2 separate regions of the Homo sapiens genome follow, and region 1 is linked to region 2. A link means that fine-mapping ties the variant in region 2 to the plasma level of a protein whose gene starts in the linked region. Region 2 holds a variant in brackets. A gene starts in the other region. All regions are shown on their forward strands.

Region 1 (2,906 bases), not on the chromosome of region 2:
CTTAGCTAACTACTGCCTCCCACTCACGTTTCCTTCCTCATTTATTTTCCCTACTGGCTTCTGGGGCTAGAGAAGATTCTAGTTTCTGATTGCAGTAAAATCCTTTCATAGGAGGCTTCTTTAACTAGGCATTTGGATGAATTAATTTATATGTATACAAAGAGAAATTTCTTTCTCAGTTAAATCCTGTTACATTATACTTCAGCTCTTACCATGGCCTTGTCATTGGGTTGAACTGGAGCTGTATTTTAGATTTTGCCAACAATAACAAGCGCTGCCAAGTACTTCAGCTGAGATCACCCAAATAATACTCTACTAGCAAAAGCTTTGCGTGGCGTTCTAACCATCAGAAACTGGTAAGTTCTATATCTCCAAGGTAGACCAAGGAGCCTGGGCCACTGTGTGTGCTGGGGAGTGAGAAAGGCATTGCCAATTGACCTCAGGTTGGGTCAGTTAGTCTCAGGTGGAAAGACTTGGATATGTAACCTTTACACACAACCATGCATTCTGAGAGAAGAGTCAATGAGCAAGACAACATGAAGTCTGGGGCAAGAGGTTGCTCAAATACTCACAATAAAGTAGAAATAAGGTCATTCCAACAACTTTAAGCACTACCACAATAAGCCCAGAGATGATCATGTGCCAGTTCATGATGAAGGAGCTGCAGGGGCCTGTGAAGATTAGAGCACAGCAGCATCAGAATTCGGGTACAAGGCTGCTTTTCACTAGGACATATCCCAGCCTCTCGCTCAGAGTACCCAAAGCAAGGCAGGCTTGGAAGACAGGCATGACATTGACAGGTACCAGGAGGTGACCCAGCGTGGGCCGCGAACACAGAAAGAATCATGTATTGATTGGAGCCTTGGAACTTGGCATACTGCCTCTCCTTCACTCATTCCCTACTCCAGGCCTCAGCCTTGCCCTATTTGTGGCCTCCTAAATTCTGTCTAATAATTAAACCCTCTCCTGTATTTTGAGAACCCTTATCCTTGAAATGACCCTTGTTCCCAAGGACCTTAGTCTGTAGCCTTCACCATACTGACTTAAGTTGTCAGAAGCCTCAGTCTTCCAAATACCAGGGGTAGGTGACAGACAGGACAGGCATCCCTGAAGGTCTTGGCATTGGTCAACAGTCCATGCAGCCAAGACAGACAGACAGACTCACCTCTTTCTCCCTGGAAGGCTAGGCTTGCTTGCAGATGGGGGTCTTCCTGGTGGCCTAATGCTTGGTGTGGCAGGCAGGGGCCCCGTCTCCTGAGAATATGCTCCTTTTGCCCAAGCAACGTTCTTCCTTCTTCACAGTCTCTGCCTTGGTAGCATCCCCAAGAAATACCTCTTCCTGTTCAGTGGGGTTCTTGGCAAAGGGAGCAGGCGGGGCAAAGAAGGGAAGAGACTCTCTAGCCCTAGTGGTGGCAAGAGCAGACTTCCTGCCAGGAGAGTTCTAATGCAGAGGAACATTTTAAGGACAATTTGGAAAACAAAATACCTCAACACAGATTCACCCTTCCTCTGTGTCTAAATCTCCTTGAAATACAGTGGGAAGAGAAATGTAGTAAAATTTTAACAAACATTGAATCTGGATAAAAGGTAGCTGGAAGTTATTTGTACTTTCCTTACAACATTTCTGCAAGTCTGAAATTATGTCAAGTTAAAAATGTTAAGAAATCCAGTTGAAGACACTAATATGAATGAGCAGGTTCTTGCTGTTCCATTTGCTCCATTTGCTGGAGCTCTGCTCATTCCCCTTTATCATGGACTCCTCTCTGGCACCACCTGCTCACCTTCCAGACCTCATGGTGGCTCTTCAGTGTTTCTTGAACATGGCACTCTGCTGGATACAGCAGTGGGCTGGGGTGAACAATACTCAAGTCCTATTGTCAAGGAGTTTTTAATTTCGTGTTAAATTTGAAAATTTGCTTTTATTTTCCCTACTATGAAAACTACTGTGCTCATGACAAAAAAATGGCTGGAAAATATTAACAAGGAAAATTGAGAAAACAAAACCATTTATAACCTTGTACATTTAGTTATAGTCATTGCTAGCACCTCAGGGTGTATCCTTTCGAGATGAGTAGGTAGATAGAAAGATAGATGGATAGATAGATAGATAGACAGAAAAACACTGGTTCACAAAGAACAATGGGAACATATTGTACATATTGTTTTGCAATCTATCTGCTCAAGATTAAGCTAACACTATGTTATATATATCTTTTCATGTCAAAATATAGATTTTGATAATGTATTATTTAATATGTGCATAGCATTCAGGTGTAAAACTATATGATTTATTTATTCAGGTGTAAAAGTATATTATTTCTTTAACAATTGCATAACCACAAATCTTCTAGTAAAGTGTGGTGGACAAGAACAAAGTTTTAAAAATCAGTCCTGCTTTTGATTCCTGGAGCTGACCTTCACTAGCTGAACATCCTTGATTAAGTTACTGAGTCTCTTTACCTTCCATTTCTTTATCTATAAATAGGAGTAATTATAGTAAATACCACATAGGATTGTTCCGAGAAATGAGCAAGATAATGCTTGTAATTTCAATAGCGTGATACTCAGCATCTTAAACATAAATCCTTAGTATTCTAACTATTTTCTAAAACTCTTCTAACTATCTTCCCAATGCACAGTGAACAGCTAAGTGCATGCATCCTTTTACATGTCCTTAATAACTTTCTTGGGCTAAGTTATCAGAAATATAAATGCTGGATCAAAAGACATGTACATTTGGAGGGCTTTGGAACATTAAAGTTGTGTTTTGTTCTACTTGGATAGTCCTCTGTGTTTTTGAAAAATCTCATTGAACCTGATTTATCTGGTCACAAGGTAATTACTTCTAGACCCTAGATTGCTGTCCAGAAGGATCCATATATTTATTGGACAATAAATATGGCCAA
Region 2 (2,906 bases):
TGTTTGAGACACAGTCTCACTCTGTCACCCAGGCTGGAGTGCAGTGGCACAATCACAACTCAATACAACTCCACCCCCGGGGTTCAAGCAATCCTAGTGCCTCAGCCTCCTTAGTAACTGGGATTACAGGCATATGCCACCACACCCGGCTAATTTTTGTATTTTTAGTAGAGACGAGGTTTCACCATGTTGGCCAAGCTGGTCTTGAATCCCTGGCCTCAAGTGATCCACCCGCCTCAGCCTCCCAAAGTGATGGGATTACAGGCATAAGCCACCGCGCCCGGCCCATCTCCTTTAATTTTTATCATAAATCTGTGAGACAGGAACCATCTATTGTTATCTTCGTCATAGACTGAGAAAACAGAGCCAGGCAGGAAAGGGATAAATCCCACCTCCCCAGCATCCTCCAGCACGGGGTAAATCCCGGGGCACTTGCTGCCAACCCTGAAGCTGCATGGGAGCTCCTGTTCCCCAACCCTTTGTGTCTCCCTTTCTCTGCCCAGCCTGGCCTCAAGGACAAGCCCCTTCGAAGCAGTAGGAGGTGGAGGGAACCATTTAACGAAGTCCTTGGGGCTCAGCAGTGTCTCTCCACTTGCCCTACCCTGGAGGCCCAGGAGCAGCCTGGTTTTGCATCAGGAGCAAGGGTTCCGTTTCTGTGGGCTGGAGAGGGGCTGGTTTCTGTCAGGAGCAACAGATGCGCTCAGCCACAAGGGTGTGTCCCCAGACAACTCACACTTCACTTGGAGGTGAATCTCGCTCTGAGCCCTGTGATTGGCCACGGAGAGCTGGCAGCGCAGGATCCGGCCGTGGTCCTGCCAGGACATGGCCATGTGGAGGGTCTCCAGGTGGCCGACGCCGGTGGGCTCAAACTTCTGGCTGTTGAAGGTGACAGAGCGAGCAGGGTCCTGGCCTTGCCACTGCAGTCTGACCTGCTCCTGCAGGCATACGTAGGGAGTGGAGCAGTTGAAGTCCACCTCTGTGCCCTCGAGAAGCTCCACCGGGGAGGCAATGGTGGGCACCCTGGGCTCCTCTGAGGACAGAGACAGCAGTGCTCAGGACCCGCTTTTGCCACCCCTGAGATCCCTCGCCCTGGAAACCCCAGCTGAGGAGAGAGCCCTGGGGAGGGGGCTTTTAGGGGAAGGAAAGACGCTTTCTACTCCAGCCCCACTTGGGTGAATACAAGGGAGAACCAGGCCTGGGCCTACGCCGGGGCTGGAACAGAGGCTGAGACTGGCTGGGGTTAGATTCAGGACAAGGGCTGGGGCTGAGAGCCAAGGGGTCCAGAAGCAGCTTGGGAATCCCTCCCGGGGGGCAGCCAGGCCACCCCACTTATCACCTGTTACTGTGACCAAGGTGCCTTTCACATCTGACCAGCGGTTGACCTCACTGATCTCGAAGCGGAAGTTGTAGGAACCAGAGTCCTCGGGCTGCAGGTCCTTCAGCAGCAGGTTGCACACCCTGTGCTCGGGGTTCCCCATGAACT[C/A]GGTGCGGCCGCGGAAGCGGGCCTCCACCAGCTTGGGGTCCGCCGAGTGGCTCACCACCTGCCGCTGGCCCGAGTAGTCGTAGTACCAGATGGCCGTGATGCCGTCGGGCACCTCCACGTCGGCAGGGAAGCTGAAGATGCAGGGGATAAGCAGGCAAGACCCCTTCACACCCTGCACGTCCTGGGGACTGGAGACGCCCCATGAGGCCTGGCCTGGGGGAAGAACGGCAGGGGGACAGAGGGGAGGGTGATACAGGCCTCAGGGTGCCACAGAGCCCTGCGACCTGCCCCAGAGAAGGTGCCCCAGCTGGGCTCCCAAATTCTGCCCTGCCCCGAGAAATGCACACTTAGAGCAGCCCTTCTCAGTGCCCCAGGGGTCAGTCCACTGCCCGAGGCTGCTCAGAGGTTTGGTAGGGTGGCTCGAAGACAGATGGCAGCTTCCTGCCCAGCTCCTGGCCACTGCCCGATTGGGCCCTCCCTTGACCTCAGCAACCAAACATGTGACCCAGGCATAGTCTAATCTGCCAAGGGCTGGACTTATGAAGGCTGGACCCTGGAAGACAGGCACTAGGCCCGCAAAGCTTACCTGCTGGGAAGAATGAGGCCAGGAGGAGAAGCTTGGGCAAGAAGCCCATAGCAGGTTCTTGTGCTGCTCCTGTTGCCTAAGAGGGTGGTGCGCACTGCGCTGGCTGGGCTCACAGGGGCCTCCAGGGACACCTCTGGGCACTTTAGCCCCAGCACCTGCTAGAAGTCCGAGCCTGTGTCCCCACCTCCTCTGCTGGCCAACCCAATAAGAGGGCAGGGCTCTTAAAGACCTCTGAGTCAGACACCAGCAGAGAGCCAGGAGGCCACGTTCCCAGCTCAGGCTGTGCCCAGGAATGCCCTCACTTGGTGGCCTGCCTCAGAAAAGCCTGTGTGTCCCTTGGCCCTATCCCAAGTTCTGCTTTCCCAGCCCCTCAAGGATACCACCCTAAGGCAGATGAACAGCTGTTTCTCCCTCTTCCCCACTTCCCTGCCCCCTCCCCACCACCCAAACCAACAGGAACTGGAGCCCAGAGATGCCCAGTTACTCACTCCAAGACACCCAGCTAGAATGATGGTTTCTTCCTGAGGCTTGTCTCCTACCACCTGCCTTACTAACTATAGACCATAATGGGGCTTTACTGAACTTGCCGAAGTGCTGCCTTTAACAGTCACTCCCCTGCTCAAAAACCTTCTGTGGCTCCCCATTGCCCGTGAGATGTGAAAAGTCCTCATTTCCTGCCCCCAGCTCTGTCCCCATTCCCTGCTCTCCGCAGACCCACTCTGGGGGCAGTTCTGTCTGCTCAAGGGCTCCCTAGCTGCCCAGCTCTATCTCCACCACAGATAATCTTTGCCTGCTGAAACCTTATTCAACCTTCAAGGAGCAGCATGAATTTGGCTT

Direction of the effects. Alleles are on the strand shown, and positions count from the first base shown. The strength of an association depends on the size of the effect and on how common the allele is.
In carriers of allele C in region 2, the plasma level of the protein whose gene starts at base 1,333 in region 1 tends to be lower than with A alone (weak association).

Evidence for each region. PIP is the posterior inclusion probability: the model's chance that the variant is causal. Protein levels are from antibody-based Olink assays in UK Biobank. Linkage for the fine-mapping came from a reference panel and not from the study's own genotypes, which makes the PIPs less certain.
Region 1: CLEC5A starts here. The variant in region 2 is fine-mapped to the plasma level of the CLEC5A protein (UK Biobank, PIP 0.92).

The regions. Positions count from the first base shown.
Region 1 is chr7:141,945,642-141,948,547 of GRCh38, forward strand. CLEC5A (C-type lectin domain containing 5A) reads right to left here and starts at 1,333. Exons shown (of 7, transcript NM_013252.3): 1 at 1,166-1,333; 2 at 573-671. The coding sequence starts at 651. RefSeq lists an enhancer at 1-1,014.
Region 2 is chr20:3,705,011-3,707,916 of GRCh38, forward strand. SIGLEC1 (sialic acid binding Ig like lectin 1) reads right to left here. Exons shown (of 22, transcript NM_023068.4): 2 at 2,070-2,227; 3 at 1,337-1,696; 4 at 734-1,030. The coding sequence starts at 2,118. Among named protein-coding and RNA genes, the nearest start is that of SIGLEC1, 6.1 kb to the right of the region's middle. The variant C/A (reference allele first, on the strand shown) is at 1,484.